Regions from separate parts of the Homo sapiens genome. Here region 1 is linked to region 2. A link means that fine-mapping ties the variant in region 2 to the expression of a gene that starts in the linked region. Tissue or cell type: whole blood. Region 2 holds a variant in brackets; the other region holds the start of a gene. All regions are shown on one strand. Distances are between the middles of the regions.

Region 1 (8,105 bases), 160 kb after region 2:
CTATCTCCTGACAAGGTTAAGAACCACTGTACTTATAAAAACCAAAATTTCTGAAAGACTTGTTATTTATAAATGGTATAGTTTCCTACTTTGGTGAGTTATCAGAATTGCAAGAATACTGTTTTCTGTTCTTTTGTCATTATAACTAAGCAGTATTTCAGCTACACTGTAGACTAAGTGGAATTAATGTTCTGGCCTGGGAAGTAAGCATCCTGGAACGATGTGTTGCATACTGTGTGACGTGTTGCAACTTATAAAAGAAACTTTAGATTGAAACCCAGATGTAAACTGAACAAATTAAGAAAGGAAATGTCAAAATATAAAACCCTCTAAACAGCTCCATTCCTTCAAAAGACCAGGTGCTTTTGATAAGGAAACACAGGACATGGTGGAAGACTAACACAAACTGATACTACAGGAGAGGGGTAAAGCTTGAAGCTTAGAAAAAAAAAATAAACTTTAGTGTTTAGGATATGTGGTCAGTAAGACACATTTTCTGAAAATGTTTCCTTTAAGTGAAACAGACCAGCTTGAATTCTCCAGGAAAGAATTAAGGCTTCAGGAAGGCACAGCATTGCTAGTACATGGAACTCTCAAGTGATGGAGAAATACAAAGAGATAGAAAAATGGATTCGGGAAGGGGTACTGCTTATGCAGAAGACGTTCCATAGCAGGCCTGACTGCTATCCTTTGAAAGTGCAGCTTGTGGCCGATGTCTGAGAACTTAAGATTTTGGGAGAGTTTCCACCACCATTAACTGATAGGAGTGGCTCACCATGCCTAAAATGTACAATCATTACAGTTTATACCAACACCTGCTTTCCTCTGGGAGTCTGGAAACGTTGGTATGTGCCAGGCAGGGGTGGCCTAAGTGAAAAGCCCCCAGTAAAAGCCCTGGGCACTGAGTCTCTAACAAGCTTCGCAGGTTGGCAACATTTCACAAGTGTTGACACAACTAGTTGCTGGAGCAACTGAGCACAGCCAGTGTGACCGCTCGAAGACCCTTGGAGCCTTGCACTTGGTATCCCCAGAACTTCACCCATGTGCCTCTTCCCTTTGCTGACTGTGCTTGATATCTTTTCCCTGTAATAAATCAGCCGAGTCCTCCTAGCAAATTGCTGAACTAAAGATGGCCTTGGGGACCACAGCACATTGCTCACGTTTAATTTTTAAAAACTTAGATTGGTTTATTAGGTTTGTATTACTAAAGGCACCCTATAGAGTCATTTTATATTCAGCCACACATCTCTTATCTCTCACAATTGGTCAGTTTAAAATTCATTTAAGGGGAGAGAGCAGGAGGAAGATGCAAACGAAAAGCTTTTCTTTAAGCATAATATATGAATACAGTATAAGCACATTCACCAGAAAGTGTGGCTAATCAAAGAATGCAAAACACTTAAGCCAAAATAAAATCACTTAAAAGAATCTTTCCCATCTACAATCACTAACAAACCCCAATACTGTATAACAAATGCTTTCCTTAGAATATAAATTTCACTACCCATACTGCCAAAAGTTACATCATTTGTTTCTCTGTGTTCATGTTGAAATGATTTGAGGCTCAGTTAATTGGAGCCTAAGCTTAGAGGTTTCTGGGCAAATACATTATTTCTCTGATTCTCACACTACTCATACTGTAAGACAACCATTCCTCTTAACAGCTTTCTAGAGCAGAGGGGAGAATAGATGAAGCATCCTACCACATTAAACATACAAAAGTCTTAAGGTACATATCATAATTTCGGAAACAGCAAGAAGTAAAACACATATCTTAGAATCCAATACTATAGTAATTAAAGAAGACAATGCTTTGTCTAGAATAGTACAGCCAACACAACCTTGCCCATAAGCCTTAGAGACCACCCCAATAGGAGTAAATATTTCTGTAAAATCACAGAAAAGTTTTTGAAGAGCAATTGTTTTCCATTTGAGTTGACTATAAGCATTAAATGTAAAAAGACTAAAAGATTTACAGTTCATACTTTGGTGACTACCCCACAGATAAACCCTATAAGAAAATCAATGTTGACAACCATACTATAGGCAACAGACAGACAGTCACTATATTTTAAAGGTACCCTAACCTCCTTTTCTATAATATTTGAGGACATGAAGACGTGAGGAAGCTCTTGAAGGAAAGGATTTGTATATCCCCGGAAACAAGCACGGTGTGGTACATAGGAGGTCCTCAAGAAATGTCTGCTGAATTTTTCACATTTTCATCTTTTGTCTGTATACAATTTTGGAGACAAACCACAAAGGCCTTACACAAAACAGTTACGGAAAAAACAGATGGCCTGTGCAGAGGGGATTATTTTTCTGATTGCAGCTGTCACTTCAGGATTCAAGAGTATCGTAAAAGCTAAAAGGCACTTTAGACATCAGTAGTTATTACTAAATCGGGGAGGGAAGTATGAATTTCTACATCCCCTGGGCAGTTTTACAGAATGTAGTTCAGAGTTACCAGCAAGGTTGTTAGCATGCAAATTTCTGGGCCCTCATCAAGCCCACTGGATTGCCACTTCTGATGGCTGAGGCCCATAATCTGCATTAACGTAATACGCTCTCTAGATGAATTTTAGGTCCACTAATGGAGGACAACAGTCAAACGCAGCTCAGTTAAACACACGGCTGTCAGAAATTATATATTGCTTGTAACAAGGTTGCCCAGACTGATCTAAAACATTTCTTTTTGGCTCAGAGATATGTTAATCAATCCAGAGGGAAAACTGGTTCTCCTATTGACCTAAAGGAGTGATCAGCAGTTATCTTTTTAGTCTGATTTTAGAGAGGAAACGGACTATACCTCAATGTATTTTCGTGACCATGAGGTTACAAAGCTTGATGTCCAGGAGGCAAAAACCAGTACCAGCAGAAGAAGCTGAGTAAATCAGGTTCCTCTGCTCAAAGATGAGCCCAGTGACATGAAACCCGAGGCACCAGATTTACAGCTAATGAGTGGCGAAATCAGATCCTCTTCCTCCCAGTCTATCCTTCCTGAAAACAGTGAATAACCTGGTCTCAGTAACCTGTTGGACAACCCAGCTGTCGGCCAATCGTTGCGGAATTATTTGCTGGTAAATGAATTGGAAGCATATGATGTAATGCAGCTGCCCTTCTCCCCACACACCTGAACTTCAGATTTCACAGCTGTAGAGCGTGTCTCTTAGGCCCGACATGACGCCCGGCGGCGCAGCCCACGTGGAAGCCGTGCTCGCACAGGCAGTTCTGCCACCACCGGGCGGAGGCCGGCACCACCCTCCTTGCTAAGCCTCCAAACTTTCCGTGCGCTCGTCACCGGTGTCGCGACCATTAGCAGGCCACGTGTGCGACTCTCTGTAACCAAGGCTTCCGCGACCCTACCCCTAGATCCGGGCCCCACCCACCCTGCCCCAGTCTCCGGGGAGGTGGGACGCCTGGGAGCGCGTCCCAGGTCCCGCAACCACAGCGCCGGCCACCGAGGCTTCTCGCCGACCGACAGGTCTCCCAGACCCGCACCCGAGCCCGGGTGCCTAAAGCAGCAGCGCGCGCCCCGCGGGATCGGGCACTACCCGGCCTGCCCCGGCGCTGGGATGCCCACGAGAGCGCCCCACTCACCCGGCACGGCCTGTTGCTCGCGGCCGCGAGCCCACTGCGTTGCGGCGCAGCGGCTGGAGGCGGGGCAGCGTGGGCACGCTCCGGGCCGTGCTCCAGCCCCCGCCCCGCCCCGCCACGCCGGCCCGCAAGTGGTGGCAGCCCGGAGGCCTGGCTACCCGGCGGTGTTCCGCGTTCACGCCCGGGCGTTTCTTTAGTCCATATGGAAGGAAATAAATGGCCTTTTTTTTCCTCTTTTTTTTTTTTTTTTTTTTTTTTTTTTTTTTTTTATGGTATGTGAGACAAGGTCTCACTCTCGCCCAGGCTGGAGTGCAGTGGTAGCGATCTTGGCTCACTGCAACCTTTACCTCCCGGGCTCAAGCGATCCTCCTGCCTCGGCCTCCCAAAGTGCTGGATTATAGGTGTGAGCCACCCACCCGGCTCTCCTTTTTTTTCTTTTAACTTGGGGCGGCAGGAGAGGATTTGAGAGAGCGTTTTGGTGCAACTCCGTTCCTTTTATGAATAGAGAAGCAGGCCTGAAGAGGAATACCAGCGGTGCAAGTTTAGGGAGTTGGTGGTCCGGGTTCTCCCATGGCTTTCTTATGGGCTGTGTGGCTACACAATGCTGATTTGTACAAGCCGAGTGTCATTTATATCATCTCGCTCCGGGAGAGAGAGTCAATCCTAGTTTTAAAAGATACTGGAAATTCGTTGCGACTATGGCTATAGAAACAGAAGAAATGCAGTTATCTGAGTCCTTTCAGCCTAACACTCCCTGCTTTGGAACATTTGGTTCCAGTCAGGAGGCACAAATGAGGGAGCAGGGAAATCAGTGGCGGGCCTGTGCCTTTCTTTGCTCTGTAGACAGCCAGAGGACCCAGAGGAAGTCGACATTTCGTTCCGTCAAGGTGACTGAGACCAGTGGCTGCTTCTAAGGATCAAGTGGCACATGAACAAATGGGAACAAAGTACACCCTTGTCTAGTATTTGTCTAAAACTAACAATAATAGCAAGTCTTGAATTGAGTTCTTCCTGGCTATAAGGCACCACGCTAGGTGTTTCAAATACTCCTCACTTCATCCTCACTACAACCTTGCAATTACCTCCATTTTACAGTTGAGGAAACTGAGTCAGGAGAGGTTAACTAACTTGCACAAGATCACACAGCTAGGAAGATGCAGAAACAAGATTAGAGCCAAACCAGTCAGTCAACTGTTGGTCTTTTTCACGTTTTACTAATACTCGTATAACTAGTAAGTTTCCTGGCAGGTTCCAGTTGGAAAAACTCGAGGGTAACATCAAATTTAGCCCTTACAGGGTAAAAAAGAATAGTCAACAGCAAAAATCTCTAGTTGATATGATATTGGTAATGTACTTCGCTCTTTATTTTGACTGCAAGACATCTACTCAAGATAATATAGAATAATATTGCTGTTCCCGGGATTCAGATAAAGGTAAATTCTCACACGTCCACCACTTGGAAAAGCAGTACGGTTGTAGAAAAAAGTTATAATGTCAACACAAAATACCATTTTCTCAGCATATAAAATGGCCGCAGGATGTCTAACAGAACAAAAGTACATATGGAAGTCAGCTTTGCAGGGGGAAATCATACATCTTGTGTAGGAGTTCCTCTAATGCAAAATTAGTATATCAGTATGTTCTCTCTGATTTTTTTCATTATAATTCCGATTTCTTAGCATAGCAAGCAAAAAAGTCATGATAGTTCCATTTTCAGACCTAAACAGTGCCCATCATTCCTGTGAAGAAAAGGAGAAGGGGCCAGGTGCGGTAGCTCACGCCTATAATCCCAGGACTTTGGGAGGCTGACGCCGGTGGATCACCCGAGGTCAGGAGTTCAAGACCACCCTGGCCAACATGGTGAAACCCCCGTCTCTAACAAAAATACAAAAAAATTACTCAAGCATGGTGGTGCCTGCCTGTAATCCCAGCTACTCAGGAGGCTGAGGCAGGAGAATTGGTTGAACCAGGGAGGCGGGGTTGCAGTGAGCTGAGATTGCACCACTGCACTCCAGCTTGGGCAACAAGAGCAAAACTCTGTTTCGGAAAAGAAAAAGAAAAAGAGAAGGAAAGTTAGTTTGTGCTTGGGTGACAAGAGCGAAATTCCGTCTAAAGGAAGGAAAGAAGGAAGGGGCGGGGAGGGAGGGAGGAAGGGGGAGGGAGGGAAGGAGGTAGGGGAGGAAGTAAGGGTGTGGTGGGATGGTATGGGAGTGGAGAATGGCTTGCAACCTTGCCTGAGAGGAGGAAGAGGAGGTGAGGAAGTAAGGGTGGCATGGGATGGGAGTGGAGAATGGTCTGCAACCTTGCCTGGGAGGCTTCTAGAATATATGGCCTTCCTACATGTATTGTTTCTGGTATTTTTTTTTTTTTTGGAAAAGTTCTTCCAGAGGACAAGATGCAGACTGCTATCCAGTCCCCACCATAGGTTCATTTAAAAGTCAGTTATTTTGTTTCTGTAATTAATTTTCTCATGAAAACAATGTTGTAGATGGCAGCTCTCAAGATCTGTCCGGAAAAGTCTAGAAGCCTCCAGATTTCTAATCAACAGACTAGCGCTCCTCCTCTGTAACTGAGGAACAAGATGCCAAGGAGACAGGAGAAAGAAGAGAATTCCCTTCATGTCTCGGCCATAAACCCTGAAACAGACTTGTCCATGAGCCTTGTAAAATAAGTTACATTTCTGCAGAGGTGCTTGACGTTCACACCGTTTGGATTGCTTTATTAAAAGACTCTTTTTAGAGCCAAGTTTGTCTTCCTCTTCTGTGGTCTCCTAGGCTCTTCTTCCTGTAGAGCTTTTGGTTTTTAGCCACCTCATTGTGGCTGTGCACCTGTCCAGCCTGGGCATCAGGCTGCAAAAGTGCAACCCTGTCCTACTCCTACCTCCAGTCACAATGATGCTGGGTGCAAAAAAATCTAAAAATGGTGGTGTGTAAATGTACTTTTTATGGTTATTAGATCTAACTCTGGAGGGGCCAGGTATATGAATTTGGAAAACTCTCTTTGCTAACATTCACTTTCCTCATTTATAAAGTAAGATTGCACCAGATGTACTGTGATATCCCTATTGGCACTCAAATTCCATAGGCTTAAGGGTCTGTGCTCCAATTTTCAAAGGGCATTAGAAGAAGAATCAGTCTGATTGGAATTACCTTTCAGTCTATAAACATTGAAGAACTTATAAAATGATTAATATTTGTATTTTTGTTGTAAAGCTTTATTTTATAATGCTACTGTGTCATACGATTCCAGGAAACACACATTGCTTTAAACTATGTGAGTACTGCCCCCTATGTGTTTGTATTCACTTTGGTCCAGAAAATATCTAAACCATGTCTTTCTAGTATATGACTTTAATATTTATACCACTATATTGGGCTAACTTTTTAATATAAGGAAACAGACACATCAAGGTTAAGGAACTTGCTCAAAAATACATCATTTGATAGTCCATTTTTTTCATTTGGGCTGCTATAAGAAAATATCTAAGACTGGGTGGCTTATAAGCAACAAAAATGGACTTCTCACAGTTTTGGAGGCTTGTTCTCTGGTTCACAGAGGACACCTTCTAGCTGCATCCTCACGTGGTAGAAGTGGGAAGGCAATTCTGTGGGTCCTCTTTATAATCCCATTTATAAGGCTTTACCCGCGTGACATAATCTACTCCCAAAGGCCCCACCTTCCAATCACATTGGTGATTCTGTTTCAGTATATGAATCCAGGGTGGGGACAAACATTCAGACCATAGCACCCATACTGCCTATCAAGTAATATTCTTTGGACCTCTGTTTATGTTTCTCCAAAAGTGGTTAATTTCACCTAACTCGGAAAGATGCTGTGAGTTTCAGGTGAGGTGGAGTAAGCAAAAGAGTTTTAAAACTGTAAAATGCTATTGAGTGTGAGAGGCATTACTGTTAAATCCCATATGACATCTTGAACATGATTCCATGGAATGAATTAAATGCAGTTGGGCCTTTTATACATGCATACTTCACTTAATTTACACAATTCATCAAGCAGAGTACCTTCAAATTGATGTCATATCACCATGGGATAATCTTGGTGTCTTAGTACCTTCAGAAAAGTCAAATTTGTTTAACAATGACCCAGGCCGAGGTCTTTCAAGACTATAGTAGTTACGATACAGCTCATAGAACTCAACGTACTTAACTTGATAACAAGCATACCATCACCGTTTGGAATTATATTTTGCATATTTATAAAACTATGATTTAAACTCCTTGGGAGCAAGAAATGTGCTTCTTTAATTCTGAGAACTGCAACAGAGTTCTTCACAGAGTAGTTACTCTGTTTACAAAATTGAATTGGGTAAGCATTCCTATTTTCTTTTCTTGCTTAGAGTCCAATTTCTTTTACAGCCTGTGCCTATAGGAAAGTTGGTGTTAGGCTGCATGACTTTTCTTAAATGATTCTGCAGACCTCCTTTCTCCAGCAACCCAGCACTTGCAGGTGAAAATATGCCTCAGGATTTTCCAATGACTTTCCCTTAC
Region 2 (8,112 bases):
CCAAATAGAGTAAATACAAAACAAATAAACTTACATATGGCAAAGCTAATAGCTGAAAACCAAAGAAAATATCAAAAACATCCAGAGGGAAGAAAACCTTATTTATAGAGTAAAAGTGATACAAATAAGTTTCTATACAAACTGATATAAAAAAGTTGATTTTTATTAGAAACCCTGCCAAATTCAGTAGTACAGTATTTTTTAAAGTGTTGAAAGAAAAATAAGAAAGTTAATCCAGAATTCTAAGATATGAAACCAAGAAAAAATTCTGCAGGGTGGAGGGAAATTACACCAAAGGAAAAGTCTAATTTTCAAGAAGTAATGAAATGATAAATATATGAGTAAATGTAGAAGGCTTTTTAAAAAGTACCCATAAAATACATGTGAATGTTTAAGTAAAAGAATAACATATTTGTGTGGGGCTAATAATGTATGTAGATATACAAATAACATATGATGACTGTAATAAAAAAGGATGGTGAGGGTGATAAAGGACCCAAACAGTTGTAAAACTTCTACATTTTACAAGAATTGATACAATATTAACTCTAATAGACAGTATAAATTAAAGATGCATATTGTAATCCCTAGAGCAACTATTTAAAAACATGGAAAAGAAATATTAAAAAGCCAATACATTAAAATAGAATTTAAGAAATATTCAATTAATCCACGTAATAAGGAAAGGGGGGACAAAGGAACAAAACACAGAAGGAAGAAACAGTCCTTAATACCATTATATCAATACTTGGAATACATTTAATTGGATTAAATTCTCCAATTAAAGTTAGAAATAAGCAGAATGAATTTTTGAAAAGCATAACTATCTGCTCTCTGCAAGAAATGCATTTAACATATAAAGATGCAGGCATGTTGTAAGTAAATGTATTAAAAAAGATTACGGAAGCATTAAGTATAAGAAGGTTTGAGTGCATATATTAATATAAGATAAAATAGACTTCAAAACAAAAAGAATTAACTGCGATAAAGACATTTTATTATCATTCATCACAGATGTGTGTGCATCCAGTAACAAAGTTTCAGAATACATAAAGCAGAAATTGACAGATAAAGGGAGAAATAAACAATTTCACCATTACAGTAGGAGATCTAAATACCTCTTACTGAGCAATTGGTAAAATAACTAGACAAAAAAAAAAACAAAACAAAAAAAACAGTAGACATAGATGATCTGAATCAGTCAGCCAAATAGACCCAACTCATATGTGTAGAACACTACACCCAACAACTACAACTTCTTTTGAAGTGTAAGACAAACAGTACAATTTTTAAAAATGGAAAACAAACTACATAACAGGAAAAAAATCCACAATATATATATCTGACAAAGAACTTGCATAATATATAAAGACCTATTATATATCAATAGAAAGAAGCCAACAACAACAAAATATGAGCAAACCACTTGAGTAGATACCTCACAAAAGAATATGGTCAATCAATACAGGAAAAGATGCTTAACATCATTAATCATGAGGGAGATGCTAATAAAAACTATGATTTATTACCATTATACACCTACTAAAATAGCTTCAGTTTTTAAAACTGGTAATACCTTGTGTTGGCAAGAACATGAAATCATTGGAATTCTCACACAATGCTGGTGGAGAATGCAAAATGGTATGTGGCGCCAACCAAGTTACGCATCTTTGTAGGGAGGTGATGATAGAGCAGCAGGAGCAGCCTAGCACCAGTTGTTGGAACACCTGTAGGATGATGAAGGCATGTACATTGCCTGGCATGGGATGTTGGAGCTTGAGAAGGGTAAAGAGGGCTTCTACACCCGACGTCCAGGGAGGTGGTGGTGGTAACAGATGATTAGTAACATTTATCAAGGAAAGAATCTAATAATATATTGACAATAATGGGAGTCATCCTCCAGAGTGTAGGAGAAGAGAGTTACAGGTGTGGAAAGAAAACTAGAAGGATTGTTGTATTACAGTTGGAGGTATCGGTATGAGCACATGAATTTCAATGGGTAGAAAGAGAGAGATATAGATACAGAGATAAAGATGCTGTTTGTGTGTATATACCTGTGTATGTGCCTAAGAGCAGTGACTCCAACAGCAATGAGAACACCTGGCACCCACATGTAGGTATCTTGGTTATATTCTCCACTAAAAAGAAGTAGGGCTCTTTGGGAAAATGGCTACTTCCATAATGGAGCAGAAAAAATACAGAATGAGCCTGGAACATTTTGTTTTTCCAGAAAGTTAAAAAATGCTCAAATAATTATGTGGACATAGCAAAAGGACACAAAGACAGTTTGAAGGGGCATTAACTGGCTACACCTGCGACATTTTGAACATCAAAATGAATAAAGATAGTAATGGACTATATAACTCATTGAATGAAATATGAATTTATATATCTATATGATACAAATAAGTGAATAAATGACTAATGGGGAGATAACATTAGAACACCTACAAATAAATGTAGAATGTTGGAATGAGAAAATCGCCATTTGACAATAATTGTAATAATTTATTCAGTCTAGAAACATCAATGGATGCTAAAAATAATAATGAAATGTTGTCAAGGAATGGGATATTTATATAGCTTCAAATTATTTCTCCACAAAATACTAATTACAGAGAGGAAAAAAAATAGCTAGCATACAATTAAGGGAGCTTGCAGACATCACCTTAATCAAGTGATCCAAGTTATTATCTGTGATGGGACAAATTGAAATCGTGTACCTTAGCTTGGTGTGGTGGCAGACGCCCGTAATCCCAACACTTTGGGAGGTTGAAGCAGGAGGATCACTTGAGCCTAGGAGTTTGAGGCCAGCCTGGGAAACATAGTGAGACCCCATCTCTACAAAGATTCCAAAAATTAGTGAGCTGGGTGGTGCATGCCTATAGTCCCAGCTACTCAGGAGGCTGAGGTGAGAGGATCGCTTGAGCCTGGGAGGTCTAAGGTACAGTGAGCAGAGATCACACCACTGCACTTCAGCCTGTGCAATAGAGTGAGACGCTGTCAGAAAGAAAGAAAAGAAAGAAGGGGAAGGAAGGAAGGAAGGAAGGAAGGGAGTGAGGGAGGGAGGGAGGGAGGGAGGGAAGAGAGGGAGGGAGGGAGGGAAGAAGGAAGATCATGTACCACCTGACACAATGAGAACAGAGCATTATAGAAGGAAAAGGAAGAAGGATGGAAGGAAGGAAGGAGGAAGGAAGGAAAGAAGGAAGGTGGGTGGAAGAAAGAGAGAGAGAAAGAAAAAGAAAAAAAGAAAGGAAAGAAA[CAG/C]AGAAAGAAAAGAAAGAAAGAGAAAGAAAAGAAAGAAAAAGAAAGAAAAAAGAATTAGGTACCACCTGACACAATGATAACATAGCATTACTTTTGGGATATTGCCAAAAATATACAGCCTGAATCCAACCATAAGAAAACACCAGGCATTTCCAAATAAAAAGATCCTGCTTCCACCAAAATGTGGCCTGTAAGAGTAAAAAAATGTCCCAGTCATGAAAGTCCCAGTCATGAAAGACTGAGGAATTTTTACCGAGTAAAGGAGACGAAAGTGACATAACAACTAAATGCGGTATGTGATTCTGGACTGGATCACTTTGCTAAAAAGAACATTAATGAGATAATTGTCAAAACTTAAATGGAGTCTGCAGATAAGGTGGTAGACTATGTCAACATTAGTTTCTTGATTTTGAGAGTGGAATTGCAGTTAGGATTTTAGGAGAATAGTCATGTTTGTAAGAGTTACACATCAAAGTATTCAGGACTTCATTTTGACAACATAATTTCAAATGATTCAGGAAATAAAAAGAAGTTCTTAATACTATTGTGATTTTTCAATAAGTTTGAAATATTTTCAAAATTAAAATATTTAGAAAAAAATTTATATGAAATAACAATGTAGAGAAAATTGAATTTTACATATTGAAGAATTAGAATAAAAGGTAGATGAGTATGTTCAAAAAAGAATGCCTGAAATGGTATCACTCATAAAAATAAACTGCCTGAATAGATTGATAATTGCAACCAATATGGGAAATGTATGTATACTTATTATATAAATTAAGTAATTATTGAAAGTTGTAGCTATATTAGAAAATACAGTACTGCTACCAATTAAAATAAACACTTTAACTCTTAATAATAAAGATGGACCAAGTGCCTTTTGGGATTTCATAATAGTAATGCTTTCAACCTGCCAACTTTTGAGTGAATTCCAGGTAATAGCTATGAGAAAAGCAGTTCATGTAAGAATGCCACACAGCTGTCAGATTGTTTTGATTCTTGTATACACTTGATTTTAGTCCTAAATTAGATACATGGTTATTAGTAAGACTTCTCCAGCTTGATTCACTCGTCTAACCTGTCTCAAGCAATAATTGGCAGCTATAAATTAAATTATGTAGGTCACATTAGGATCAGTGCAGCAGTTTCTCCATCTGCCTATTTCTCATACCTTGTCATTGTCATTTACTTTTTAATTATACAATTATTTTAAAGAAGGTCAAGATAATGCAGCAAAGAGTTCACTTAAAGGTAGTTTCATATTAACATTCCAAAGCCCTTGTATGTTCTTGTATTACACATAGTATTTGATGATTCACAATGTAGTAGCACTCACTCACTGCCATATTTCCTCACCAAATCAGAAGGCAAGCAAAAATTATCTCTTTTTTTGGCCTACTATTGCACTCCTGATCTTTTATACTGCTTTTTGACTAGTGTAATATTCCTAATATAAACGTTTCAATAGATTCAAAATCTGTTAAATAGTGTTTCAACTGGGTTCTGGTTGCAAGTTTTCCATCCATGCTTCTAGAGCTGTGATTTGTGAAATCCACCCAGGACCCCAGGCACAGCCTGCCCAAATCATATGATTCGGCATTTCTTCCTCCCTTTTCCCAGTATAGGAATAACTTCAGAGATATTACGGGTTCAGTTCCTGACCAGCACAATAAAATGAATATAGCAGTAAAGCAAGTCAGATAAACTTTTTGGCTTCCTAGTGCATTCAAAAATTATGTTCATACTATAGTATATTAAGTATGCAATAGCATTATGTCTAAAACCATGATGTACATGTCTTAATTTTAAAAGACTTTATTGCTTAAAAATGTTAATTATTATCTGAGACAGCAGCTAACTCTAATCTTTTTGCTATAATAGTAGAAGGTCTTGCCTTCATGTTGATGGCTGATGACTGGTCAGGGTGGTGGTTGCAAAAGGGTGAGGTGGCTGTGGCAATTTCTTAAAAGAAGACAACGACAAAGTTTGCCACATTGACTGACTCTTCCTTTCACAAAATATTTCCCTGTAGTATGTGATGCTGTTTAACAGCATTTTACCCACAGTAGAACTTCTTTCAAAACTGGCATCAATCCTCTCAAACTGTGCCCCTATTTTAACAACTAAGTTTATGCAATATTTGAAATCCTTTGTTGTCATTTCAACAACGTTCACAGCATCTTCACCAAGAGTGAAGTTGTAGATATATTAGAAAATACAGTACTGCTACCAATTAAAATAAACACTTTAACTCTTAATAATAAAGATGGACCAAGTTCCTTTTAGGATTTCATGATAGTAATACTTTCAACCTAACAACTTTTAGCTATGAGAAAAGCAATTCATATCAGAATGCCACACAGCTGTCAGATTGTTTTGATTCTTGCATACACCTGATTTTAGTCCTAAATTAGATATACGGTTATTAGTAAGTACCTACTTTCTTTGCTCATCAGGAGCAACTCTTCATCCATTCAAGTTTTCTGGTGAGACTGTAACCACTTAGTCACGTCTTCAAGGTCTATGTCTAATTCTAGTTCTCTTACTATTTCCAGCACATCTGCAGCTACATCCTCCACTGAAGTCTTGAACCCGTCAATGTCATCCATGAGGATTGGAATCAATCTCTTCCAAACTCCTGTTAATGTTGATATTTTGGCCTTCTCACAGGAATCATGAATTTTTTTTTTGTTTGTTTGTTTGTTTGTTTGTTTTTTGTTTTTTCGAGACGGAGTCTCGCTCTGTTGCCAGGCTGGAGTGCAGTGGCATGATCTCAGCTCACTGCAACCTCCACCTCCTGGGTTCAAGTGATTCTCCTGCCTCAGTCTCCTGAGTAGCTGGGACTACAGGCGTGTGCCACCATGCCCAGCTAATATTTGTATTTTTTTTTTTTTTTTTAGTAGAGATCGGGTTTCACCATGTTGGCCAGGATGGTCTCGATCTCCTGACCTCGTGATCCGCCTGCCTCGGCCTCCCAAAGTGATGGTATTACAGGCGTGAGCCACTGTGCCCGGCCTCATGAATGTTCTTAATGGCATCTGGAATCCTTTCCAGAAGATTTTCAATGGACATTGCCCGGATCCCTCAGAAGAATCACTATCTATGGCAGCTCTGGCCTTATACAATGTATTTCTTAAAAAATAAGACTAGAAAGTTGAAGTTACTACTTGATCCATGGGCTGCACAATAGGTGTTGTATTAGCAGGCATGTAAACAACATTCATCTTGTACATCTCCATCAGAGCTCATGAGTGACTAATTCTGAAAGGAATTTTTTTTTTTCCTGAGCAGTAAGTATCAACAATGGGCTTGAAATATTCGGTAAACCATGCTGTAAACAAATGTGTTGTTATCCAGGCTTTGTTGTTCCATTTCTATAGCATAAGCTGAGTAGATTTAACATAATTTTTAAAGGCCCTAATATTTTCGGAATGGTAAATGAGCATTGGCATCCACTTAAAGTCACCAGCTTGATTAGTCCCTGAGAATCAGCCCATCCTTTGAGACTTTGAAGCTGGACATTAACTTCTCCTCTCAGTAACAAAAGTCCTGCATGGCATCTTCTTCCAATATAGGGCTGTTTCATCTACATTAAGAATCTGTTGTTAGTGTAGCCACCTTCATGAATGATCTTTGCTAGATTTTCTGATAACTTGCTGCAGCTTCTACATCAACATTTGCTGCTTCACCTTCCACTATGATGTTACGGAGATGGCTTCTTTCCGTAAACCTCATGAACCAACCTCTACTAGCTTCCAACTTTTCTTTTCCAGCTTATCTCTCTCAGCCATCATAGAATTGAAGAGAGTTAGGGCTTTGCCGGGAATTAGGATTTGGCCTAAGGGGATGTTGTGGCTTCTATCAAGACTATTAAAACTTTTTCCGTATCAGCAATAAGGTTGGTTCACTTTCTTTTCATTTATGTAGTCACTGGAGTAACACTTTTAATTTCCCTCAAGTTTGTCCTTGCATTCACAACATGGCTAACACTGTCTGGCACAGAAGGCCTAGCATTTGCCCTGTTTTAGCTTTTGACGTGTTTTCCTCACTAAGCTTAATCATTTCTAGCTTTTGATTTAAAGTGAGAGATACACAAGTGTTTCTTTTACTTGAAACCTTAGAGGCCATTGCAGGGTTATTAATTGGCCTAATTTCAATATTGTTGTGTCTCAGGGAATAGGAAGGCCCAAGGTGAAAGACCAAGGAGAAGGAGAGAGACAGGGTAACGGTAGGTCCACGGAGTAGTCAGAACACATATATTTATCGATTAGGTCCACTACATTATATGGATGTGGTTTATGGCACCCCAAAACAATTACAACTGTAATATCAAAGACCTCTGTTCCAGATCACCATAACAGATATAATAATGATGAATTATTATAATTATTATAAGTTGAATTATTACTTATTCTCCAAAGAATCTCCAAAATGTGTCACAGAGACAGGAAATCAGCACATGCTGTTGGAAAAATGGGGCTGATAGACTTGCTCAACAAGAGGTTGCCTCAAACTTTCAATTTGTAAAAAGCACACTACCTGCAAAGCACAATAAAGTGCTATGAAAGGAGACATGCCTGTTCATATTTATCACACTGTTTTGTAATCTTATAACTGTTGCTGAGTTGTATGTTTCTTTCTTTGAAACATATAACTTGTTGTTGTTGTTTCTCAATATATATTCCTCCCACAAACTTCCCTAATCATGTTCAAAGCAGCTAACACAAAAGGAATAAATTCAGGGTCAATGATTTAGATTCTACCTGGATCTTTATTTCAGAAGTTTTCTTTTTCTTTTCTTTTTTTTCTTGAAATGTAGAATGACTTATAGACTTTTCTGAAATG

The links. PIP is the estimated chance that this variant, and not a neighbour inherited with it, causes the effect.
Region 1: RIOX2 starts here. The variant in region 2 is fine-mapped to the expression of RIOX2 in whole blood (TOPMed, PIP above 0.99).

The regions. Positions count from the first base shown.
Region 1 is chr3:97,968,781-97,976,885 of GRCh38, forward strand. RIOX2 (ribosomal oxygenase 2) reads right to left here and starts at 3,651. Exons shown (of 10, transcript NM_153182.4): 1 at 3,601-3,651. LOC124909398 (a long non-coding RNA gene) reads left to right here and starts at 3,873. Exons shown (of 2, transcript XR_007095976.1): 1 at 3,873-5,030; 2 at 6,086-6,342. RefSeq lists an enhancer at 2,866-3,125 and a silencer at 3,396-3,835.
Region 2 is chr3:97,806,641-97,814,752 of GRCh38, forward strand. All of the region lies in intron 2 of LOC101929298 (a long non-coding RNA gene), which reads right to left. Among named protein-coding and RNA genes, the nearest start is that of CRYBG3, 11 kb to the right of the region's middle. The variant CAG/C (reference allele first, on the strand shown) is at 3,263.